7 linked regions of the Homo sapiens genome follow. The protein of the gene in region 7 interacts with the protein of the main gene of each other region in a biochemical or structural test. Each region holds a gene or a part of one and is shown on either strand. Other genes may lie near its edges.

Evidence for each region.
Region 1: the proteins of GIPC2 (region 7) and CNKSR2 interact in a test that uses a peptide from one of them, tested with the Homo sapiens proteins (one large-scale study listed by IntAct).
Region 2: the proteins of GIPC2 (region 7) and RGS12 interact in a test that uses a peptide from one of them, tested with the Homo sapiens proteins (one large-scale study listed by IntAct).
Region 3: the proteins of GIPC2 (region 7) and GHRHR interact in a test that uses a peptide from one of them, tested with the Homo sapiens proteins (one large-scale study listed by IntAct).
Region 4: the proteins of GIPC2 (region 7) and TANC2 interact in a test that uses a peptide from one of them, tested with the Homo sapiens proteins (one large-scale study listed by IntAct).
Region 5: the proteins of GIPC2 (region 7) and ARHGAP17 interact in a test that uses a peptide from one of them, tested with the Homo sapiens proteins (one large-scale study listed by IntAct).
Region 6: the proteins of GIPC2 (region 7) and MAP7D2 interact in a test that uses a peptide from one of them, tested with the Homo sapiens proteins (one large-scale study listed by IntAct).

The regions. Positions count from the first base shown.
Region 1 is NC_000023.11:21,372,958-21,377,222, forward strand, and holds the start of CNKSR2 (connector enhancer of kinase suppressor of ras 2), read left to right. Parts: upstream 1-1,465; 5' UTR 1,466-1,940; coding exon 1,941-2,004; intron 2,005-4,265. Other genes in the region: uncharacterized protein LOC105373146, read right to left, coding at 1,026-1,465.
Region 2 is NC_000004.12:3,296,021-3,299,520, reverse strand, and holds part of RGS12 (regulator of G-protein signaling 12), read right to left. Parts: intron 1-3,500. UniProt on the Homo sapiens protein: Regulates G protein-coupled receptor signaling cascades. Inhibits signal transduction by increasing the GTPase activity of G protein alpha subunits, thereby driving them into their inactive GDP-bound form.
Region 3 is NC_000007.14:30,970,453-30,973,952, forward strand, and holds part of GHRHR (growth hormone-releasing hormone receptor precursor), read left to right. Parts: intron 1-666; coding exon 667-764; intron 765-1,510; coding exon 1,511-1,643; intron 1,644-3,500.
Region 4 is NC_000017.11:63,417,235-63,420,734, reverse strand, and holds part of TANC2 (protein TANC2), read right to left. Parts: intron 2,429-3,500; coding exon 2,328-2,428; intron 740-2,327; coding exon of another isoform or gene 737-739; coding exon 1-736. UniProt on the Homo sapiens protein: Scaffolding protein in the dendritic spines which acts as immobile postsynaptic posts able to recruit KIF1A-driven dense core vesicles to dendritic spines.
Region 5 is NC_000016.10:24,921,370-24,924,869, forward strand, and holds part of ARHGAP17 (rho GTPase-activating protein 17), read right to left. Parts: intron 1-3,500. UniProt on the Homo sapiens protein: Rho GTPase-activating protein involved in the maintenance of tight junction by regulating the activity of CDC42, thereby playing a central role in apical polarity of epithelial cells.
Region 6 is NC_000023.11:20,022,908-20,026,407, reverse strand, and holds part of MAP7D2 (MAP7 domain-containing protein 2), read left to right. Parts: intron 1-455; coding exon 456-727; intron 728-1,324; coding exon 1,325-1,457; intron 1,458-3,500. UniProt on the Homo sapiens protein: Microtubule-stabilizing protein that plays a role in the control of cell motility and neurite outgrowth via direct binding to the microtubule. Acts as a critical cofactor for kinesin transport.
Region 7 is NC_000001.11:78,122,466-78,125,965, reverse strand, and holds part of GIPC2 (PDZ domain-containing protein GIPC2), read right to left. Parts: intron 86-3,500; coding exon 4-85; intron 1-3.

The sequences.
Region 1 (4,265 bases), on a different chromosome or scaffold from region 7:
ATGTAGGCTTGTCTAGATAATTTTCTAAATGTCTTTCCAAAATTCTGCATATACTTCTAAGTTTGGATAGTTAGAAAAATAAAGAAGCCTAAATACAGGCCATCTTAAATTTTACTTGTTCGCTATCACTAGCATTGAAATCAGCAGTTAAAAACGTCACAATATTTTAACTACTGTGGTTTCAGCTGTTTGTGTGTGTGTGTGTGGGGGGGAAGGGTGTCGTCAACTCATGCCGGTTAAAGAACGTGACATTTCTGCATCTTATAAAATTGGACTAGAGAAAATGGGTTACCATAGGAACTGGCAAAACCTATTGACATTACTGGAATGCTTATTTAAAAAGTTTCTTTTACTTAATGGACCTATTTAAGAATGATAGAGAAAACGCCTATAACGGTGGCAGAGAGTTAGCATCTACACTCTAGGAATATTTGTCTTTTAAAGTGAAGCCTCATTAGGCAAACTGTATTTTACTAACCGTTGCATAGTAGCCTGTGTATGGTTTTTGAAGAAAATGAGTTTTGAAAAATCATGTCTACAATTTGTCACTCATTTTAAATCCCATTGTTGCCCTTCGGTTCTTATTAATATATAAGAATATCAAACACAAAATGACTTCTCTAAAATAGGTACTTTAGAGGAGTTGGCCCAAAACCTGAAACAGAGCCCTTTAAAATGGTACTTGGGGCAGAACCTGTCTCAGGATCACCACAACCAGCAGCTGGCAGGTGACAGCCTCAACGCCTGACTTCCCAGGACCCGCTCATCACCCGGGGAAGATCCGACAGCACTAGCCCTCCTGCCTCATCATCGCTGCGCTTCTGGCAGGCGGAGCCCCGTTCTCGTCCACGGCAGTCCACACCTCCGTCTCTGCAGGCGTACGCGGGTCTCGGGAATCACCTCCGGAGCCCACTCAGCAGCGGGGAGGGCGAGGGCGAAAGCGAGAGCCAGGAAAGCCCGGGCTCTCGCTGTAAGCCCCGCGCTCAGTGGTGTCCCCCTCCCCTCGGTGGTGGGGCCGCGGATACCTCCTCAGCCGCCTCAGCTGTCGGAGTTCAACTGGTGGGCGGCCCGTCCCGCCGTGGCCGCCACCGCCGGGTCCCCTCAGAGGCCTCACAAAGCCATGCTCCAGCCGCCCGCACCTGATTGACCGACCCCGGGCTCTGGCTCTGCCTCGCGCCGCCACCGCCTCCGCCGCCGCGCACGCGCACTTCGCGCGCCTCTGTTCCCGGACGGCCCCCAGAGCGGGAACGCCAGGCTGCGAGCTGCTGGCACCTGTCTGCCTGCCAGACAGACCCTGGGCTCCGGCCTCGTGCCGGCACGCGCACGCGCACGCGCCTCGCGCGCCTGCCGTCGGCCCTGGGGGCGGGACCGCGCGGCAGCGAGCGGGCGGGGGGCTCGTGGCGCGCGCGCCCCGCACCCGAGGGCTGCGGAGAGATATTTTGGGTGGCAGGAGGCCCCTCGTCATTTCCGCCGGGCAGCTAGTCGTGCTCGGGGCTTCACTCCCGCGCGTGAGGCGAGCGGGCAAGTTGGCTGAGGGCGTGCGGCAGAGGCTGCTTCCCTCGGCGACGCGACCCCTCAGCAACTCAAGCTATGAACTGAAGCTCCCTAGGGACGGAGACCGGAGCGGAGCGGCGGAGGCAGCAGCAGCAGCAGCAGCAGCAGCAGCAGCAGCAGCCGCCGCCGCCGCCGCCTTAGCGGGAACTGAGCAGACCCGGCGCGGAGCCACGACTCCTGCACGTTTACCTCCCTGTCGCCGTTCCTGCCGGCGGTTGGCTAAAAGACGTTACAGCCGCGAGACCCGACACACAAAAGCCGCTTTCTCCGCGCCGCCCGCCCAGGGAGGCTGCGGCCAGCAAGGGACCCCACCTGAGAGCAGCTCGGGCTGCTGAGTTCGTTTTGTGTCTGAGCTCTGCGCTCTGCACGGAACCGACCCCGTACCCATGGCTCTGATAATGGAACCGGTGAGCAAATGGTCTCCGAGTCAAGTAGTGGACTGGATGAAAGGTAATGCCCGCTGCGGGGAGGGTGAGGCGGCACTGGGGCGCGGGGCACCAGTGCGAGGTTAGGAGGGGGCGCCCGCCGCGCCAGAGCCCGCCACCGCGGCTTCCACTGGCGGATCGTCGTACGCGTCGGGGCGGGGGTCCTCCAGGACTGGCAGGGGCCTGGGGTCCCCGGTCTCCTTTTGTCTCCAGCTAGAGGGGCGCGGAGCGGCCAGAGAGCTAGAGGGCAGCGGGCGCCACCCCGTTGGAGGCAGGAAGTCGGGAGGCAGAATACCGGCGCATCTTGCGTACTCCCCTCTCCCCTTACTGCCCCCGGGCCAGGAGGACGTGGCGACCCTTATCTCCCAGCTCAGGGTGGACTCCCCCAGGACCTGCTCCCCTGGTCGCCCTTTCCTGGCCCCTTTGTTCCTGGGAAAGCTGACGCCCCCTCGGCGGCCGCCCTTGCCAGGTGCCTTCCCCAGCGCCAACTCTCCCAAGCAACTTTTAGCCCACATAATGGGGTCAGGACGCGGCCGCCCCCATTCGGAGCCTGGCATCCCCCCACACCCAGATTTGGCTGAGGATGCCCAGGGTGGGGGTATGTGCTACTTTGAGGGTGAGGACATCATGCTTCCCCTGGGACAGCATCCTTGCTGCTGTCTCTGGGCTGCCTCCAGCGCATCCCCTCGCATCCTTTGCCTTCTCTGCTTTCTCCCTTTCAAGCCAGTCGAGGTTTTGGACCTCACGGCTTTTTATTAAGGGCTCAACGCCAGATGTAAGGTGATGCGCATTCAGGTACCTTCACATTTCTTCCATCTTGAAGGTTCCCCCTTTTGTCCCTGGCGATTTATAATAACCACAGTTATAGACACTCACCCTCCTAATCGCAAACGTGAGCTTTTTTTCTGATCCCTGGGCTTTCCTGTCTCACTACCTCCCTCTGTTGTCTGAGTTAAGGGGCTTGTAGAGGACTCCCCCACCCACCAACCCCTTGGATCCTCAGGCCCAACTCTTCCCTAAGATTTTGGGAATTGAAGAGGGGATGGATGGGATGGAATGGAATAAAGGATGCGTGGCCACACTTGGGAAATGTTAGCGCTTTGCTCGAGGTCATACCTGAGCAAACTCTAGGTAGATCAGTCAGGGACCAAAGGCTTATTATCGCTGAAAATGCCCGTTCCTACGATGAAGGAGCCCCTTCTTGGGCTTACTTAACAGTCAGACTTTCTAAGCTCCAGATAATTTAGAACGAAAGGTGAGGTGATTGGGAGGGATTGAGAGTGACAGGGAGAAACTGATTTTTTTTGCTCATTCTTTTCCCCAGCCTTTTTGGCCGCTTGCTTATTCTTGTGGATTTTTCTTTATTTTGCTTTCCTTTTATTCCCTTACTTGCCCCTTTATTCCTCATTTACTTTGCTTTTCTTTTCTAATATGTGGAAACTGCTTTGTAACTGCTAAGCAGTACAAATGTGAGTGAATTGAATTAAACCTAATACATTATTTATCGACTGCACCCCTGTGTGCAGTGCATTGTGCTAAGGTGCCATGGGGGATATAAAGATGACTAAGACAAAGTCCTGCAGTGGCTCATCTTTGCTGCTGCTTTTTCTCTTTATGTATTTGCTATTGAAATTCCAATATCTTAGATTCCCACCAATTATCCTCACTCTCCACCTTCTCCGTTTCTCAGTGATGGAAGAAAGAGCCAGAGTATATACAGGAAGCAACAATGCTTAAAACCCCGTTCTTTGAATTTGTCTAAAAGGTTACTTTAGTTTGAGTCTGTTGCTGAAATATTAAAAGACAAGCTATCTTGGCTCCATGGGAGTCTGATTACCTTCATAGACTACCTTTCGCAAATTCCCATGATGCCTGTAGTGAGTGCTGCATACTCAGTCTCCACCTCCCACCCTCCCAGTTATATTCTTGCAGTTTCCCCTCTCTCCATAGTTTAGGTCCACTGAAGCAAGTAGAATATATGATGCACCTATTCTGACACACATTATTAGTTGTCCAGTACACCAGTCCTTTAAAAATCTTTCCAGCCTAAAATGTGGCTTCTTTGAAGTTAGGTTAACATTGTTAGCTGTGATTTGAAAATTTTTTTTAAATGTAAGTCGAATACCTTGTTTTCATACCTGTTGGTGACGCATTTTAGAGCTATTTGAAAAGATCAATTGGGTAGCCAAGATAGTTTGTGTATCGTGTATACATATGACTGGAAGAGAATGAATGATATAATTACCTGTATATTTCAAATCCCAGACTACTTACTGCTGAAATTTC
Region 2 (3,500 bases), on a different chromosome or scaffold from region 7:
AACCAGACACAAGACACAAAAACCAACTCTGGGAGGTCCTGGAGAGCTATGAAAAGCAGGCAGAAAGTGGAGGGGAGTTGTCCCCTGAAAGGAGAGAGCTGCACCAACTAAAACAAGTGTTTCTAAAAATGGCTAGAGCACAGGTAGAAGTTGTGATCCTCCCAGCTTGAAGAGTCCAAGATAGGGCTTGGGGAGGGCTGGGTGGCTGAACAGTGAGGGGCATATCTCAGAAAGGAGGTCACTGGGGAAGAGGCAGTCGTGAGATCTGTTAGTAAATTCTGCCTAGGTCCTGGCCAGTGGTGAGCCATCCATGCACAGAGAGACCCCAGAGTCCAGCAGAAGGAGGCAGCCGGAAGGTCAACAGCACCAAGCAGAGACTGCAGCAGAGATTTTCATTTGAGTCCAGACAAATTAACTTCCAGAACAAAAATCAACACTCTTCAGAAAAAAGAAGTCACTACAGTTACCATCTACAATGTCCAGTACACCATCAAATAACACTAGATGTTCAAAGAAACAGGAAGATGTGGCCCATAGTTGGAAGAAGCCAATAGAAATTGATCCTGAGGTAATGCAGGTGTTGAAATTAGCAGAAAAGAACATTAAAGCCGCTAGTATGTGTTCAAAGATTTAATGACAGTATGATCACAATAAACAAATGACAGAGCAGAGAAATGGCAACCATAAAAAATAAGTGAAAATTCTAGAAATAAAAACTACTGTAACTGAAATTTTAAAATGCACGAAACTTAATAGCAGTTTGAAGATGGTGAAAAATTACATATCCAAGAAGTTCAACAAACCCTGAGCAGGACAAATACAAAGCAAACCCTCCTAAGAACATCACAATCAAACTGCTGGAAGCCAAAAATCCCAGGAGGAGCTTGAAAGCACCTCATCATATAACATAAAGGAGCAACGCAGCTACCAGAGTGACTGACTTCTTAGAAACAGCAAAGGGGCAACATGACGAGACTATGAAAAAATAAAATGAAAAGTAAAAATTGCCAGTTGTGGGGGTGCATGCTTGTGTTCCCAGCTACTCAGGAGGTTGAGGCAGGGGGATCGCTTGAGCCCAGGAGTTTGGGGCTGCAGCGAGCTATGACTGCACCACTGCACTCCAGCCTGGGCAAAAGAGTGAGACTCCGTCTCTTAAAAAAAAAATTGAACAAACATCAAAGAGATCAACAAGATGAGAAAAAAGAGAATTAGAGGATCAACCTAGGAGGTCCAACCTCCAAATAAAAGTTCCAGAAAGAGAAAACAGCAAAACTGAAAGAAAATTATCTTTGAAATTTAAAAACTTCTATCCTCAGACTGAAAGGGCCCACGGAGTGCCCAGCACAATAAACGGAAGCAGATGCCATTATCGGGCTTCTCAGAACACTGAGGGAAAAGAGCCGCTTCTATGAGCTTGAGGCAGGAGAGATCACACACAGAAGAACTGAAATCAGAATGGCGTCAGACCTCAACAGCACAGAAACCAAATGCAATGAAGCAACATTTTCAAAATTCCGAAAAAATCATTGTCTAAAATTTTATACCCAGCTAAGTTAAAAGGTAATTGGAGAGTAAAATAAAGATGTTTTCTAAATCAAGGACCAAAAAAAATACCTATGTGATGTTTCTTAGGTATCAAAAGAGTAGGACTTCAGCAAAACGAGGAGTGAGCCAAGCAGAGAGAGAAGAGCAGGACCCAGTGCACAGGGAGCCCCACAGATGGAGGACAGCAGCGGGAAATGCAGGTGACAGCGGCGCAGCAGGTCTCCTGGAGACCAGGGCAAACGAGAGCAGGGAGAAGGCTCCAATCCCAAAGGGGTGGGGATGGGGCTAGTGTCCTGGATGCAATGAAAAACAAACCATTTTGATAGGTGGGTGACTAGAAGATGCTAATCCACAGGGCTGTGCGAGAGGACCTGTGCTCAGGGCACTCCTTGGCGCAGTAATGAGCAATGCTTACAGTCACACAAGAGCAAGGACTGTCGATTTCACCAAAAATGCAGTGATTATGATGGCACATAGAGGGACAGGGAGGCTGGTGGGACAGAGGAGAGCTAAACCTCCCCACGGCCTTTGGGAGAAATAAAAAAAGAATGTCTTAAGCTTTAAAGGAGCAGCTTCAACAGCAGTAAATGCCTGAGAAAACAGACCACTTAGGATCCCGCCTCTGGGGGCTGCGGCCAGGCAGGGCAGGAGAATGCCTACAACTGGACGCTTCAATCCACAGACTCAGCCCTTTTTCAGGCATGCTGGAAGGACAACTAAGATCACTGCTAAGGGACACAAAGATGTAGGAAAAGATATGTGAGTAGAGTGTGTATGCGTATCGGGTATCACCATGATTACAGAGTTGGGGACAGCAAGTGCATGGAAAAGCAGAAAGAAAAGAAAAACAGAAAGAACAAACTAGATGTTTCTTTTCTCTTTCACTGAAGTCCAGACCTTAAAAGACACAGAAGAAGGGAACTTCTAACACAAGAGTTCCTTGCCCGGAGCCCGAGGCAAGAGGCTCCTTCATGGAAGAATCTAGGCAACTTCTGCAACGGTGGCCCCCAAAACCACAGGTAAAACTGCATGAGCACTGTGTGGAGTATCCAGTTTGGAACTGGTAACGACCCCACCTCCTAAAAAGGCACAGCATGAGTGACCTCCCACAACCTCTCATGACTGGGGCTTGCATCCTGAGCAAGGCTTGTCTTCCTTCCCAGGACACCTGTTTCCAGGATGGCTCCCGCCTCTCCCCAAGGGCAGGGAAGTGAAACCACAGGGACCTTCCCTGGACAAACCCTGCCCATCCCAGAGAAGAGGCATGAGACGGGTGCTCCTCGCACACAATGGGAAAAGTGAAGTCATTTCGAAGACAAGTGAGGAGCCTGCTGTAGGCTGAATAGCGATCCCCAAAGATATCCAGGCCCTAATCCCTGGGACTGTGAAAGCCATACGGCAATACGGATCTGCAGATGTGAGTAAACTAAGGCTCCCAGGACAAGGAGATTATCCTGGAAATTTGAACATGGCAGAAGAAGACAGAAGCTAGGCGCGGTGGCTCGTGCCTGCAATCCCAACCCTTTGAGAAGCTAAGGCAGGAGGATCACTTGAGGCTAAGAGTTCAAGATCAGCCTGGGCAACATAGTGAGACCCCATCTCTACCAAAAAAAAAAAACAGAAAAAATTAGCTGGGCATGGTGGCACATGCCTGGGGTCCCAGCTACTCAAGAGGCTGAGGCAGGAGGATGGCTTGAGCCAGGAGTTCAAGGCTGTAGTGAGCTATGATTGTGCCACCGCACTCCACCTGGGCAACAAAGTGAGACCCTGTCTCTAAAAGGAGAAAATAAAGAGGAGGAGAAAGACAGCGATGTGACAATGGAGGCAGGGCAGGAGCCGGGAGCCAAGGAATGAGGCCAGCCCCCAGAAGCTGACCAGGGGGGCAGTTTTCCTCCAGCCCCCAGAAGCTGACCAGGGGGGTGAACGGCTCTCCTCCAGCCTCCAGAAGCTGACTG
Region 3 (3,500 bases), on a different chromosome or scaffold from region 7:
TCCCAAACCCATCATCCCATTTCTCTGTCCCCTTGATCTCTGAGAGGTAAAGCATGACTGTAACCATTTTTCAGATGGAAAGACTGAGTCAGGGACAGGAAGTGATTGCCTGGACCCCACAGGAGAGCTGGGATTGGGGCCAGTGCCCAGGCCCCTGCTCCCTTCCCTTGCCTGCACCCTCTATCTTCAGGGCCAGGCTGGACTCTGACTGATCCAAACACTTGGCCACGGAAACCTTTTGCCTGCCTGCCTGTGGCTGTCCCCAGGTGTCCCTGGCTATCTCCTTTATTTGGATACATTGTGTTCCCAAGCTGGTGAGCAAGCTGGATGTCAATAAACAAGCTGATTTCCTCTTGGGCTTTTGTCATTCCCCAGGGACATGTAGTTTCTGCGGCTGCCTCTCCTCACCCTCAGAGCATCATGAATGTTAAGCATCTCCACTCCTCGCCACTACCCCTCCCTCACCCGCAGGTCAGGTGGAAGGCAGGCTGTAAACTAAAGCTCCAGTGCACAGGGGGAGCTTTCCATGGTACTCGCGGACACCTCTGCCTCCAGATGGGGAGTGTTGGGGTGGAATGGCAAAGGCTTCACCTGCTTGATTGTCAAGCCTCTCTTTCCTCCAAAGGCCCAGAAGCTGAGACTTTCTTCTGTCTCTGCCCTTCCCAGGAATCTTACTTCTCCACAGTGAAGATTATCTACACCGTGGGCCATAGCATCTCTATTGTAGCCCTCTTCGTGGCCATCACCATCCTGGTTGCTCTCAGGTTTGTCATCCTCATCACCAGCTCAAGAACCTTCCTTGGCTCCTTATTTCCCAGAGGGTCAAGTCTGCTTCCTTGCCTACATAGCCATGAACTTCCCAGATCTAGGCGCCATACCCATGTCTAACTTTCCCTTCCCTTTTCCCCACCATGTAGACCCATCTCTTCAAACACCAGAACTCATTCCTACCTCTGCCCCTTTGCTCACGTGGTGCTCATTCTATTTGCTTGGAATTCCTCATTGTTCTCAGTGTATTTATAACTGAGAAAGCCCAGCTCCTATCTGCATCTGACAGTCCTCTGCCTCCTGCCCAGAGCCCCTCTTGACTGTTATAACTCTCTGACCACTGTCCCCTTTAAGACCCCACCCCCTCCTCCAGCCTTCGAAGTCTGAGCACTGCATCTGGCCTGTGCTGTTCTTGGTCTCATGGGGATGAGTGTCTCTGATCATCCAGGGGGCTCCCATGGGCAGTACCTGCCGTTTCTGCCTCTGTTCCCTGAGACTGTGAGCACCCTCGAGGCAGGGACCAGATATTCCTCTCTTTCCACACTTACCCTGAGCACAGGAATGGTTGCTCAGCTGTCCTGCAAGGGTTAAACTGAAGCCTCAAGTTCAGCTCAATTCAATTCAGTTTGATTGCATCCAGTTTGATTCGATTCACCTCCTGCCCTGTTCAGCCCAGTTGCAGCACACCAGAATCCCCTCTCCCTGCTTGCTTCTTGTTCCTCATTTCTCCCATTACCCCCAGGAGGCTCCACTGCCCCCGGAACTACGTCCACACCCAGCTGTTCACCACTTTTATCCTCAAGGCGGGAGCTGTGTTCCTGAAGGATGCTGCCCTTTTCCACAGCGACGACACTGACCACTGCAGCTTCTCCACTGTAATGGCCATGGGTGAAGGGGCTGGGCAGGTGGGGGAGAGAGGAGGTAGGATTACAGACCCAGATGTGCCTGCGTCAGGCTTCCCTGCCCTGTGGGCTGACCCTGGGGCTCCCGCATGGCCAATTACAGAACAGGAAAATGCTCCTTTCCCATGTCACCCCCTAAGTCCTCACGCCTTTCCTGGACTGTGGTGTCGATCCATGTCATTTCCCATATTGCATGCTCTACTCCGCGTTCTGTAGTCCAACCTAGACCACGTTTCACTATGCACAGCCTTTTCCTTTCCTTTCACCCCTCCCTGAGCACTCATAGGTCTGTGCTGGGGGTGTGTACGCAAGGGGCTGGGAGGAGCTGGGTCCCTCCTTCAGGAAGAGCCCATGGGACAGAATGCACACAGATTAGGGGACTCCCAAGTGGAGGAAGCTGAGAGCTAGGAGAGAACGAGAGGGGGCTTCAGGGAGGAGAGGACCCTGGAGCTGTATTGGCAGCAACAATAGGGAGATGGGGAAGGAGAACATTTCAAGAGGAGAGACCAGGGTGAACAAACTCTCAAAGACAGGAGGACCTGGGCCATGTCCAAGAAACTGGGAAGGCACCATGGGAGAGATGGGGTGGAGACAATAAGAGGCAATTGAAATTAAAGGGAAGTTGGGCAGAATGTGGAGACCCAGCACCTGCTAGATCCTCTGCAAGTGTGCTGGAAATGAACAGCGAAATCAGGGAGCAAACTAACACATGACCTCAATTAACTGATGAAAGAATTAATCATACTTCATACTGAGCACTTATTTTGTGCCAGGCATTGCACTAAGTGCTTTACATATGTAGTTGTCCCTTGAACAATGTGGGTTTAGTGGTGTTGACCCCCCTTTCAGCTGAGAATTCAAGTATAACTTTTGTGTCCCCCAAACTTAACTATTGATTGCCTACTGTTGACCTGAAGCCTTACCAATAACATAAATGACCGATTAACACATATTTGTCTGTTACACGTGTTATATACTGTATTCTTACAATAAAGTAAGCTAGAGAAAAAATTTTAAGAAAATCATAGAGAAAATAAAAATTGGCTGTTTTTAAATGGAAGTGGATCATCATGAAGGTCTTCATCCTCATCGTCTTTATGTTGAGTAGCCTGAGGGGGAGGAGGAAGAGAAGTTGATCTTGCTGTCTTAGGGGTGACAGAGATGGAAGAAAATCTATGTGTAAATGGACTTCAGCAGTTCACACCTTTGTTGTTCAAGAGTCAGCTGGCATTATCTCTTGAATTTTTAAAACAGCTTGAAGAAGAAAGCATCACTTTAATCCCATTTTGTAGAGGAGAGACAGTTGGCAAGGTCACCCAGTGGCACACGGGTGGGGCTGGGATCAAACCTGGGCCAACTGAACTCAGAGGTGGTCCTGCTCCCCTGCCGGCAGGTGATCAAGTCATGCAGTGAGTGAGTGAATGCACGGGTGCCTGTGTGTGTTTTTTGCAAGACAGAGCTGTGGCTGAATAAGTCACAGCTCTAGGGATTGACTTCAGCTCAGGAAGGATGGGGGTAAGTGAAAATAGAAGCAAGTCTTAGGCAGTTTCCATTTAATCCTTATGATGAGGACTTGATCTAGGTATTGGAGGTTTTTCCTTTTACAGATGAAAAGCTAAGGTGTGAGGAGATTTGCACAGGAAATAGATAGTAAATTAGAAGCCAGGCTGTCTAGATACCAAATCTGTGCTCTTAACCCTCACTGTATATCACCACATCCCCTCTTGGGTGGCCCAAGGAGCTGCAGGTCCCAGCCTAACATGGAGGGGCCTGGAGGTTCTGTATCTGAGTAGGGTAGAGGAGACTGGGATGGGGCTCCAGTGGGTGTCC
Region 4 (3,500 bases), on a different chromosome or scaffold from region 7:
CATTTTGGATAATGGAGATTTGGGTCTGCCAGGAAGCTGACTGACGCTTGTTTCCTGCTGATAGCGCACGGGTGAACCAGACTGGGATCTATAGACACTCATACTTTCAGCTGGAGGGCTGGCCCGATACTGAGGGCCTCTCCGGAGAGGGGAAGGGGGAGGGCTTGGGTATTCTTTGCCCTGTCCTCCCACAGGAGGGGGGCTGAAACGGTAAGATCCTCCCTGATGAGCCGGGGAAGTGTGTGGTGGGCTAGGCCTGTAATGTGAGTTCTGATGAGTTGGAGAAAGGGCAGGTGAGGTGGACTGATAGGTCTGTCTAGTGGGAGAGCCTACAGAACTACTGGACCGGAAGTCAAAAACCTGATGAGAGCCAAGAGGTGAGCTGGAGATGTAGGCTGAGTCCCGATGCGGGGGAGAGGAGGGTGGGCTCTGGATGACCGGGAGCCCCTGGCTGGGCCGGGCCTCTGTCTGGAGGCCAATGGAAACATTTTCAACATCCTGTTCCAGGTACTCCTCCTCGAATATATCCTGTACAGAGTATATGTCTTCATGCTGTGGCTCAGGTTCTGCTTCTTCCGGCAACTGCTGCTGAGGCTGCGGTGGCGGCGGTGGCTGCTGTGGCTGCTGCATCTGTCTACACTCTTCTTCCACTCTCAGCAGAAGTCTCTGGATCTCACGGTTGTTGGGACACAGCTTGATGGCCTCGTTCAGGTCCTCTAAGGCTGCTGCGAACTGTCTGCTTGACAAAATGTGAACACAGGAACTGGAGTTATTCTGAATCCAGAGAAATCACCAAGAGCTGAGAACATGGTCACTATCTCAGAGAGCTGTGGTGGCGTCTGTGGGAGTCTGGGGTATTTCGGTTTAGTTGGATTTATAGGGAAGGAAACAGGAAGACTCATTCTGGAAGAGTCCGAATGATTCCCTAACCCATTCGGCCTCCATCTTCCTTCTGGCCTCTCTGGGAATAGTGGAGAAATGCCCCATTTTGTCAGTCCAGCCAGGCCCTTCGGGAAGTTGTTTTGGTGCCCAAACACACACCAGGCAGTATGAGAGTTGGGTGGGGTTGTCATTTACAGGGTCACTGTCAAGTAGCTTAGGAACAAAAAAAACTACATATTTAAAAATCTTGCTGATCCAGCAGAAATTTTTCTTTATATTCTCAATATTTTAGCTCCAAATTTCAGGCCTGTTCTACTCTAGGCAAGAACCCTGTCCTCTGCCCTTTCTAACCCTCATCTCTCAGAATTGCTGTGTCTCCATTTGCTCTATCAAAGTGGGGCAGGCATTAGGCTTGCTGACTAGGTCACTCGGGGCTGGAGCTGAGCTGACTCCAAGGAGACTCTAATTTACAAATGAAGAAATGAACTGTCAGAGACATTCCCATCTTCTCTACTAATATCACCTGACAGGGGCAACTGACCTTGTGAAAAAGGAACTACCCAGAGGGAAGGAGAATTTCAGTCAGATTTCTGTGAGGACTTCGTTGCCCCAGCTAGGTAAGAGTGCGATCACTGCCACCACCATCACTAGCCTCAAGCTGGGTGTGATTTTCGGGACCATGTGCCCCTGGCCATAGCAGTGAACCTGAAGCAGTTCTTTCCCATGCAGCTGGGGAGGAGGAGGGCAGGAGGCATAAGAGACAGTGACAAGTTACACAAAGATCACTGATGGCAGGTTCTAGGTTATTCTGGGAGCTTTTCTGCCCAGTGGCCAAACTAAAGCAGATGGGCACAAGGAATGTGGAATGGTGTTCTCTTAGAGGGTCCTCTCCATCCTGGCAGCAAGGACCTCTTGACTCTGTGTGTGTGTGGTGGGTGATGGTTTAGGTGGAAGGGGGTCTGATGCCACCAGACTTGAGGAGAGCCCCAGAGGGAAGACTAACTAATCCGGGATTCCTCAAACGCCTATGGGAGAAGGAAGAGGAACCTGTGATGTTAAGTGAACCATCCTACTTTCCCTCTAAAGCGGGGGTGGGGTGCTCTGCTTAAGTGATTTCTTTAAGTCGCCGTTGTCTCTTTGTGCTAGCTGCTCTGGGGGTTGAAAAATGCCTGAGATACGGCAGAGGCTTCTTGGAAGAAGCTGCCATTCTCCAGTGAAAAAGTGTTTTTCTCCCGAAGTGAAACATTCGTGGCCTCCACAGCCCAGCAGATTTGCTGATCTTGAGCTGAGGGCTGTGCTATGGGAGCCATCCCCAAAGCTTGGCCCTGACAGTTCTCAAGGACAGAGATGTATTTGGGTACATATGCCCCAGGGTGGCCGACGCTGCCTTGGCCAAATTTTCAGAAAAGAGACCTCTTGCTTTCACCCTCTCTCTCTCTCCTCACCTGCTGCTGCGTTTTGCCCTTGCTCTCGCATAGTAAGCTTCATAAGATTTCGGTTTCAGCTCCAGGGCCTTAGTAGCAAATTCCTCCGCCATTCCAAAATCCTGTCATTACAATAGGTGTGCAAATGAGTCATTGATGAGATATAAAAAATAGACAACTTGGGAATAAAACAAATTATTTGTACATTTTTTGACATTCATGGATGGAACGCCTGGGACGCTAGACGTGCCTGACATGGCTCAAGCCGCGTGGCCTGTGGACTGAAAGTTCCTTCTGCCTTTGTCCTGTGTAGCGCTGCGACTGCTCACTGGACTTTATCTGCCCAGAATATTAAAATAGTTTTAATTTTCCCTCTTTTTGCCTTTCTAATAAAGTTCTCAGCCCGGAAGCCAAACACCAACCCTTTCCAGTGAAGCTCCTGAAGTTATCCATGCATGTAGGAGGCAAACGCACACATGTCCACATTTCACGTGGACCCTGGTCTGAGCCCCACACCTTCCTGCTACATGCACTACACTGTGGCTTTCTAAGGGACAGGTGAGAAGGTGTCCTGTAAAGTCCGGGAGGATGACGTCTGTAAAGGAAACTGCACTGACTACAGAGACTAGAGGGAGAGGGGGTGTCAGACAGACCTGGGTTCAATTCTCTGACCAGCTTCATAACCCCCAAGTGTATAGTGTATTTTCTCATCCATACCTACCCCGGGGGTAGGATCAAGTGTGATACAGTATTTAAAAGCCCTGCACAGTTCCCGGCACATAGTAGGTGCTCATTAATTATCGTTTTCTTTCTATTTCACAGAGGCTTCTCTGATCTGTTCCTTTTTTTAACTGGTTCCTTACTTAGGAAACACTTAAAATTAAAAATAAAACAAAACAAGAGAAGACCCCAGCTGTGACTGAGGTCTGTGCTCTCCCTAGAGGAACACGCTCACAGGCATGTCATTCCTGAGAACCCCTGGAAACAGAGACTGGGGGGTGGGGTGGGGAACAACGCCGACTAGGCAGCCTATGGTTTTCAGTATTCCCTTAAATACTAAGCTAAAAGAGAAGGCTTTCCCCTTCTTTTAGTGTCAAAGCCACAGTATAGCATGGTAGCCTCTGGTTATGGTCATGAGTCCTAAGGCAGAAAACAAGGCCTTGGGCAGAACAAAGGCCCTGGGGCATAGGTAAA
Region 5 (3,500 bases), on a different chromosome or scaffold from region 7:
CAGCAGTGAGGGAGTGGGAGGAGGAGGTGGTTTGTGGGGGCGTTTCACAGTTAGGCTTGAGAGCTGCTTTCCCCTACTTGCTGTGGTGCAAAATGACATCCTGTCTGTCCTTGACGGGAGCTAGTTTTGACTATATTTCTGTTCGACCTGCTCCCGTCTACGCAGGCACAGCTTGAAAACGCTGGTGCACTTTGGGGAAGCTCACTGCTTGGAGACTTGTTCCAGCTCCTACCCCTTCCACCTTCCTGTCCCTACAGTTCTGAGCTGTGAGATCTATTTACTCCCTGGGACACCCTTTTTCTCACAGTTACTCCTGGGTTGTCCCTCAAGGTTTCCTATGCACCACAACTCAGAGAAATTTCTAGATTTATGGAGGTGCCAAAGTGTCAAAGAGTTCAGGTGCTGAATGTCATTTCAGACAATTCAGGTCTTGTGATAACTATAAAACCAATGACACTGTGCAGAACTGCACCAGCCTATGGTGCAGCCAAAGGTGGTCTGTATGCACAGAATAGGGGCTGTCTTGGATTTGTCCTAAGCAGAACAGAAGTCAACGAAGGCAGGGACTGTGTCTGTCTTGTTCACAGTGTATCCTCAGTACCTAAAACAGTGACCGGCAAATAGCAGATGTTCAAGAAATTTTGTAGCTGCACACTTGGATGGTTGGATGGATGCATGAAGAGTCATCTAGAGCAACCATCTTTCCAATCCTCCATTCTTACATCCTCAGGCAAAGAAGTAGCTGTGACTTGAAGACGACGTATAAGAAAATCACTGCAAATGCAATCCTTTCCCCATTATCTTGGCCCCCAAAAACAGAAGGGGCTACCAGCCCGTGTCTCTTCTCAGCCCAGAGTTTACCAGAAACTATGGAACCGACATGACTTGGCGGGGAATGCATGATGCAAAGGCACTGTGTATACGGATGAGATTTCTACTTGTTAATATCTGTATTCACATGCAAGCTAACGCCTATCAGCCACCAAGCCCCTCCACAGCTGCTCTCTTTTTCTTATACATCACATATACATAATTTTTAGATTTGTGCCTCTCTGAATTTTTCTATTTATGATCCACACACATTATTAATTCAAGGGGAAAAAATGTGTTTTGGGGCATAAAGGAAATCCCTTACTCTGCCGCCCACCTGCCCCATCTGGTTTCCCCAGCCCCTCTCTATTCCTACATGAATCAGTCCCTGAAAGAAACAATGACTTTGTTTACACACAAAAAGTAGAAAGAATTACGGCAACCTGTACAGAACCAGTTTTCAGAAAGAGACTTCATCACAGTAGCTAACATTAAAAAAAAAAATTTTTTTTTTGAGATGGGGTCTTGCTCTTTTGCCCAGGCTGGAGTGCAGTCGTGCAATCTCAGCTCACTGCAGCCTCCACCTCCTGGGCTCAACTGATCCTCCCACCTCAGCCTCCCGAGTAGCTAGGACTACAAGCATACGCCACCATGCCTGGCTAATTTTTTTTATTTTTGGTAGAGACAAGGTTTCACCATGTTGACTGGGCTGGTCTTGAACTCCTGGCCTCAAGCAATCCTCCCACCTCGGCTCCCCAAAGTGCTGGGATTACCAGCATGAGCCACCACACCCAGCCTCAGTAGCTGACATTACTATAGAGCACTTACTTACACCAGAGACTGTACTATACACCCACACTTTATTACATCGTCTCACTGAACCCCCACTAACTAATCCTAAGGCAGCAGAAATAAGAAAGGGAGACTCAGAGGCTCTATTCCTTGCCCAAGGTGACACAGCCAGTGTGGACCAAAGAGGATCAAAGCCAGATTGGTTGCACTCTGGCTCTTCGCATTACATTTTCCCTCCTCCCCAGAGGAGTCTGTAAATCCCTGGGTGAGGGCCTTCAAAGACATTATCCAAGATCATTGTTTCAGTCTTACAAACACTCTGGTTTGTTGTAAAAAGGAGAAAATGGTTATTTCAGAAAGACACCTGTAAGAACCTGGTTTGTCTGAAACACCTCTAAATCTTTCTGGCTATGAACTCGTATATTAACTGCACTCCAAGAAGGGCTGGTTTCTGAGCATATGCTTGGAGCTAAGTTCATACAAAAGATATTGTATTTAAAAAAACAAAATAGGCTGGGCGTGGTGGGATGATGGTGTGAGCCCAGAAGTTCGAGACCAGCCCAGGCAACATGAGACTCCGTCTCTATAAGAAAAACACAAAAATTAGCCGGGTGTGGTGGTGCATGCCTCTAGTTCCACCTTCCAGCTACTTGGGAGATTCGCTTGAGCCCAGGAGGTCAAGGCTGCAGTGGACTGGAATCACACCGCTGCACTCTAGCCTGGGCAACAGAGCAAGACCCTGTCTCTCTTTTTTTTAAAAAAAAAAAAAAAAAAAAAGAGAGAAACAGAGGATGACCTCCAGTAACCAGCCTCAGCCCAAAGGCAGAACTTGATACAGTTCATCTCAGATTTGGGGCTCTGACAAATGTAACCCAGGTTCCTTCCTGCACTGAGTATCTCATCCAGGAAACAGAAGTGGGTATTTAAGAGCTAGAAGTGGAATGTTATCACTGAGGGTAAGGTTCTAGAAGATTTACTTATTACTTCAACAATTTTGAATATGTGCTTTCTCGGTTGTGAACTCACCCTTCAAGAAGTCCAAGGTGATTCTGATAGCCACTTTGACAAGTAACAGATCCAAATATGCCCTTGAAAGTAAGTGGTGCAGGCACAACTGCAGGGCGAATAAACTCCCTCCCCCTCTCCACCACCCATCCCTCTTCTCAGACCTAGAGTCTCAGGGAATGCCTTCCTTCACCAGTGAACGGTTTGAGTCTTAAACACTCTGGTTGATTGTTGTAAAAAAGAGATAAAGGTTATTTTAGAAAGACACTTGTAAGAACCTGGTTTTCTTTAAACACCTCTAAACGTCTCTGGCTATGAATTTATATATTATTTGCATTCCAAGAAGGGCTGGTCTTTGAGCATACTGCTTGGAGCTAAGTTTATATGACAAGTATTATATTTCAAAATTAAAAAAAAGCAAAAAATCAGACAAAAAAGAAACCTTTTATTGGAGGTCTCTTTTCTGTTTTTTTTTTTTTTAAATAAAATATCTACTGTATGAACTTAGTTCCAAGCAATATCCTCAAAGACCAGCCCTTGGAAGGCAGAGAATATATAAATTCACAACCAAAGAGGTTTAGGGTGCTTTTAGAAAGCAGGTTCTGGCTGGGTGTGGTAGCTCATGCCTGTAATCCCAGCACTTTGGGAGGCCGAGGCAGGCAGATCACCTGAGGTCAGGAGTTCAAGACCAGCCTGGCCAACATGGTGAAACCCCGTCTATACTAAAAATACAAAAATTAGCCGAGCACGGTAGTGAGTGCCTGTAATCCCAGCTACTCAGGAGGCTGAGGCAGGAGAATCGCTTGAACCTGGGAGGTGGAGGTCACAGTGAGCTGAGATCGCACCACTGCATTCCATTCTGAGCAACGGGGTAAGACTCAGTCTCAAAAATA
Region 6 (3,500 bases), on a different chromosome or scaffold from region 7:
AGAGTTGAACGCCACTGAACTGTACACTTAAAAATGGTTAAAATGGTAAATTTGGTGTTATATATGTTTTGTCACAATTTTTTTAAAAGGAGCCAGCATGTTCATTGCCATATGCTGAAACCAGATTCAACCCTGATGTTCACCTAAAAAGAGGGAGTAGGGAAGTGCCTAATACTCCATCTTTACATTGTCATGAAACCTAAGTGAGATTAGGACATGGCATCATCAGCTGGGCTTCTTAAAATGTTTCCCTTTCCACCAGGGCCGTCTTAGAGAGACCGTATATTCCTGTTGGGCTGAGAGCACTTTAGTGACTTTTGAGTGTGTGCTAAGCCCTATTTTCCTTCCTCTGGAAGGATGAAATTGTTCAGCTTGTTGGAACTAGGTGTCTTAGGAACAGAGAGCTCTGTGTTCAGGCCCAGTAATCATCCTCTGGCATATTTTTTGTTTTCCAGGACAGCTACTAAAGCTTATCCACAGTCTCCAAAGACAACGAAACCTCCCTACCCAGGGTCTCCTGTGAAGTACCGCTTACCTGCCCTTTCTGGCCAAGACATGCCCAAGAGGAAAGCGGAGAAAGAGAAGAGCAACAAGGAAAGGGAAGGTACCTTGGCTCAGCAGGCTGCTGGCCCGCAAGGAGAGGAAGCCCTAGAGAAGCATGTAGTGGACAAGCATGCCAGCGAGAAGCATGCTGCTGCCGCAGGAGGGAAAGCCGAAAACAGCGCAGGTAGATGCTGCCACCGTGCCTTGGCTTTCCCAAGACGGTTCTCCTCAGACCCAATCCACGTGCCATTCTCTCATGTTTTGGGGAGGGAAAGGGATTTTTCTCTGGGGACAAGTGCATCCCCTCGTGCAGCTTTCTTGGGTTTGCACGTTGCTCCTGAGTTCTTTCCTTCAGTCTTCTGAGGGTCCCCTGGAGGAAATCTAGAGGCTGACTCCACTCATGGCTGTGGAAGCTCACGGGGATGCTGAGTAAAACAGGCCTGCATCTGCACCTCACGCAAAAGAAGATCTTCCTTTAGACTTTCAGGCTTCTATGATGCAGTGAGTTCACCCAGATGGTGGCTGCTGTGGCACTTGCTAGTGACCTTGTCTTTCCTCCTCATGTTTCTATTGTCTTCCACTGTAAAATGCGTCCAGGGTTCCAGCCAGCCCATGACAGCTTCTCTTGCTTGGTGGTCGATTGTGCTAGTCTGGACGGCATTTCCCATCACCACACTGGGTTGGATTTTTTTTCACTTCCAACTGGCAGCTGCTGTGTGAGTGGAATCATTATATTCGTTTCCCTTGATCTTTTCCTCTTGATGCCTCTCCTCTGGTGCAGCCTTGGGGAAGCCCACAGCAGGCACCACTGATGCAGGAGAGGCTGCGAAGATCTTGGCTGAAAAGAGAAGACAGGCCCGGCTGCAGAAGGAACAGGAGGAGCAAGAACGACTGGAGAAGGAAGAACAAGATAGGTATGCTAGTGCTCAGAATTTCGGTGTGATCTCATGTAACTGTTGTGTTGGAAAGAGCAGCTTGCCTTTCTTTTTACAGCGTTGGTATTGATAAAACTTGAACAGAAGTATGGGAACCTAGAATGTCTGAACTACATGGAAGGTGTTCAGGAGACTGAGTCTTATATTAGATGTAATTATTAATAACAATGGAACTTTGTTCTTTTCGGAGGACCTGGAAACTCATAGCTCTTGGATCTAAATGGCACAGGCATCTTCCCATTCTCCTCTTGGACTTTGGGGCCAGGCAGGCCTCCTAGAGCTATCAGGGAAGTCTGAACTTTGTTTAAAAAATGAGATTCTCCCTGGGAAAACAAGAGGTTCAAGATTCTGGTTTTGGTCTTGATTCTGATTTCCAAATTGTTTCCTCCGTCAAATTATCCTAACTCACACCCCAAAGTGAGAGACAGAGGGGAGGGTTGAGCAGTGTCCCCTAGGCATAGGGTTGTGTGTAGGGGCAACCGCATAGTCTAAGAACAGTGAGGTATGGGGAGTCCCATCTGGGAGCAAGACAAAAGACATCATTGCAGTGGTCCCTACACCTTGAAGAGCATCAGAATCATCCGGGGAATGCAGTAAAAACACATGGACTCAGCCCTGTTCTGTTTTAGTAGCTTGCCAGGGTTTGAGAACCACTGTGATGTTAGTACCAGGGTACTTTGTCACAATACAGACAGACCTTCCTTTTCTGATCTTTTTATTTAGAGAGGAAAGCATGTTGAAGGACAAGGTCGATTTTATCATTAAATTGATAAAGGAAGCCGTTAGGCTCATCACAGAGTACAATCCAATACTGTTTAGAGAATTATCATGACAGGAAGCAGGCAATGCTGTAGCACTTCAAGGCCAGCACCGAATTTAGAGTAATAAATAATAGAATATTATTGATCCTTTAGTGACCTTGGTAAGTCTTTGTGGTCTCTGATTACAGGTTTGCTGATCTATTTTTTAAAAGGGACAGTGGGGTAGGTCTCGACAGTCCCTTCTTGAAATTTGGGACTTCTTTGATTGTTTTCCTGTTTCCAACATTTTGGTCAATACAGACGTGTTTTGTTTGTTTGTTTGTTTGTTTTGTCGAGTGGCATGTTTGGGCTGGTTTGGGTGGGCCTTAAGGTGTGTGAAGGGAGGTCACAAGAGATAAAGATGAATCACAGGACCTCAGATGACAGGCCTTGATAATTGCAGGCCATGGAGATACCATGTAGGCTCTGAGCTGGTGAGTAACATGATCGTAGTCGTGTGCTAAAGAAGGTGATGTTCTTTACTTTCCAGCTACCACCGTCTGTATCTCCCATTTTCTTCACAGCCCAGCTCCTGAAAGACTTGATTGAACATTCTGTCTTTATTTTCTCAACTCACATTCAGTCTTCAAACCTCACACCTACCACTCCTCCTCGTTGCCTAACTACTAATCAGTTTCTTGGTTGGCTTTGGCCTTGTCAAGCTTGCCCTTGCTTCTCTGGCCTCTCCTTCATAGCCTCCTCTGTCTGCCCCTCATCCCCTTAAATGTTGCCTGGGCTTTCAGCCCTTAGTCCTGGACCAGCTTCTCTCCCAACAAGCTCTCCCGAACAGCACTGCTCCCGCCTGTTCTGCCAGTGTCCCTGCCATCCTGCCAGTTTCCTATGGCGTCAAAAGATTTAGGGCCCACATTTTACACAACAGCTTTCTGTTGAGCCTTTGTTGTGCTAAACCAGCTCTGCTCTCATCTCACTTCCCACCTTCATTTTCCCTTTGTCTTGTTTTATTGTCCGTTTCTGAAGCTAACTGCAGCTTGCTTTCTAAACCTTCCATACTTTCTGGAACAAGGGAGGCACTAATAACACATGTGTACTGATGACTCCTAAAACTATGCCTGTGGCCCAAGCTCTGTCTAGGGCTGCATTGTCCACTATCAGACCCTCTAGGCACATGTGGCCACCAAAATATACATTCAGTAAAATTCATTTCCCCAGCCACACCCGCCACATTTCCGTGCTCAAGAGCTGCATCTGAGTAGATGTGGAT
Region 7 (3,500 bases):
TACCTAAATCAATATCTCGAATTCCCATGTACAACTCAAGAACATCATCAATCTTTTCAATTGCCTTTGCTTTGGTTTCAGAAGGCTTTATCAAAAAAGAGAGAAATAAGATATTATACAACAAAATCTCTTGATTGTCAGGGCATACACAAGAGAAAGCCTGATGTGGAGCCGGTTCATAATTGTGTATTTCAGCTAATTTTAATGGAAATAGATCTAGAATGTGCTCTGTAACTAAATACAAATCAATACAGTAAATACTTATTTCTAGTGTCAGCACTAAGTGTTACGGATTCAAAAAAGAAAAGCCAGGAACACAATCCCCAAGTAGCTAACAATCTAGAAGAGGAAACAGATGTGAAAATAAATAACATGTAACAGTTTTTAAAGGATATAAAAGGCACAGAAGCATCACAGGGGAGGAAGCAAATTTATATCTCTAACAGTCATGGAAGACTTTAGAAAGAAGGTGACTTGGCTGAGCACAGTGGCTCACACCTGTAATCCCAGCACTTTGGAAGGCCACGGTGGGAGAGTTGCTTCAGCCTAGGAGTTCAAGACCAGCCCAGGCAACATGGTGAGACTCCATCTCTACAAAAAAAATTAATTAATTAATTAAAATAATTAGCTGGGTGTGGTAGCACATGCTTGTAATCCCAGACACTTGGGAGGCTGAAACAGGAGGATCACTTGAACCTGAGAGGTCTAGACAAGCCTGGGCAACATGGCAAGATTCTATCTCTACTAATTAATTAATTTAATTTAAAAGTAACCAGGTGTGGTGGTATGCACCTTTAGTCCCAGCCACTCAGGAGGCTAAAGTGGGAAGATCACTTGAGCCCAGGATGACGAGGCTGTAGTGAGCCATAATTCTGCCACTGCCCTCCAACCCGGCAACAGGACAAGACCCTGTCTCAGAGAAAAAGAAGGATGTCTTAAGAACTGTGGCGGGGTTTTTTTGTCTTGCTTTGTTTTGTTTTGTTTTGTTTGAGACAGAGTCTCATTCTGTTGCCCAGGCTGAAGTGCAGTGGTGTGATCTCAGCTCACTGCAACCTCTGCCTCCCAAGTAGCTGGGATTACAGGCGTGCGCCACCATGCCCAGCTAATTTTTTGTATTTTTTTAGTAGAGACGGGGTTTCACCATGTTGGCCAGGCTGGTCTCCAATTCCTGGACTCAAGTGATCCGCCCACCTCAGCCTCCTAAAGTGCTGGAATTACAGGCATGAGCCATCACGCCCAGCCAAGAACTGTGTTTTCAATGATGAAGAGGAGATAAGCAGGAGAGGACACTTCAAGTAGGATGCAATAGATAGGCAAAGTCTAAGTAAGGTCACAGAGTCATGTTAGAGGGATGCCAGAAGTCCCATGTAGCTGGAGAACACAGTGACAAATATGACTAGATCTTGAGGAGTCCTGTGTACCATGAAAAGGACTTTGGTCTTTATGGTGCAGGCCAGGGTCTCCAAACGTTTGATGGCTCATCCCAATAGTAAAACTTTTCTGAACAAATACCCTTATTGTGTATTTTTAACTTTATTGTATGTATTGCTTATCAATTACACATGTATTACCATATTAATATATTGTATAGATTATAAAAATACACCAAAAAAGGAAATTTTATAAGAATGAGATGATAAAATAATACTTTTTAAATCATTTTTGTGTTATGTATTAATGGTACCAAAACATTTTTGTTCTTCCCGAAATGATTACTAAACATTTCAGTAAAAATATTATTTTAAATTTTTGGTTTAATATTTGGTAAATTCTGCTCAGTTTATTTCAATACTTGGCTTTAAATGGCATCATAGCTGAAAATGGAATTGCCCAAAGATGTTAACTACTCAACTATACATGCAAATGTAGAATTCATTATTTAGATTATAAGAATTTCATGTTACTTTCAATACTGTTATAAATATATGTTGTTTTGTAGTCTCAAATTTTATTAAAATCATGCATTTTATAGCAAATAAAAATCTATTTCCTTGAAGATATTAATACAACTTTCTCACATTTTTATTTACAAGAACTAAACCTTAAAAACAATAACAGACAATATATTGCTCTTGCCTTCATTACAATGTATCTTGAATTGTCTGTATAAAGCAACAGGCTATGCAAATTAACAGGTATTAACCTTTATATCTATCCAGGCACGTTTTAAGTTACGGTGACAAGTGTCAGTACTCCTCATACCCAAATGGCCACCAATATTTTACCATTCTAATATTTCCTATTTGCTACGGAACAGATCTGGATCTATCACCTCTTCTCCATCCACATTCTGTTTGCCAGTGTTTAGTCCTCATCTTTTCTGATTTGCAGAGGTTTCCTATTTTGTCTCCCTGCCTTTGGTCTTCACCCTCTCAAATCCAAGCTGCTCAACAACCCATACCCTGGAACCAAGGGATTTTTCTAAAACACAAAACTGATTGTGTTACTCCCCTCATAATTCTTAAATGGCTCCCTCATTATCCACAAGGCCCTTCATATCCTAACCCCAGCCTATGCCTCTAGCCTCATCACCCCTACCTAACCAGTACTTCCAGCACCCCACACTCCAATCTCATGAACAGCTTACAGGTCCCCAAAACCCATTATTGTTCCATGCCTAGAACACTCTTCTTCCCCATTTTGAACTCACTCACTAATTTCTTCCGGAGAGAAACACTTCCTGACCCTTTTTTTTTTTTTTTTTTTGAGATGGAGTCTCACTCTGTCACCCAGGCTGGAGTGCAATGGCATAATCTCGGCTCGCTGCAACCTCCGCCTCCTGGGCTCAAGTGATTCTCCTGCCTCAGCCTCCCAAGTAGCTGGGATTACAGGTGCCCAGCACCATGCCCAGCTAATTTTTATGTTTTTAGTAGAGATGGGGTTTCATCACATTGGCCAGGCTAGTCTCGAACTCCTGACCTCAGGTAACCCACCCACATCAGTCTTCCAAAGTTCTGGGATTACAGGCGTGAGCTACTGCACCCAGCCTTCTGACCTCCTTTCTTTCCCCAATCCCTGTCAATGGCTGATCAGCCCCTTCTTTGTGACACTGTGTATCCTGCACCTGCTTCCATTAACCCTATCCCACTGGGTTGTAATAGCTTCTTTTCATGCTTCTCTCCTTTTAGAAGAGAAACAGGGTTTTTATTCTTCTTTGTATCACCAGCACTTAGACTGTGCCTGTCTCAGCAAGCACATATTGAATAAAGTATGAGGTTATGCAAGTGGAGAATTGATATGGTTTGGCTCTGTGTGCCCACCCAAATCCCATCTTGAATTGCAATCCCCACGTGTCAAGGGAGGGACCTGGTGGGAGGTGATTGCATCATGAGGTGGTTTCCCCCAGGCTGTTCTCGTGATAGTGAGGGAGTTCTCACAAGATCTCATGGTTTCAAAAGCGACAGTTTCTCCTGCACACTCACTCTCTCCTGCCACCATGTAAGACGTGCCTTGCTTCCCCTTCACCTTCTGCCATGACTGTAAGTTTCTTGAGGTCTCCC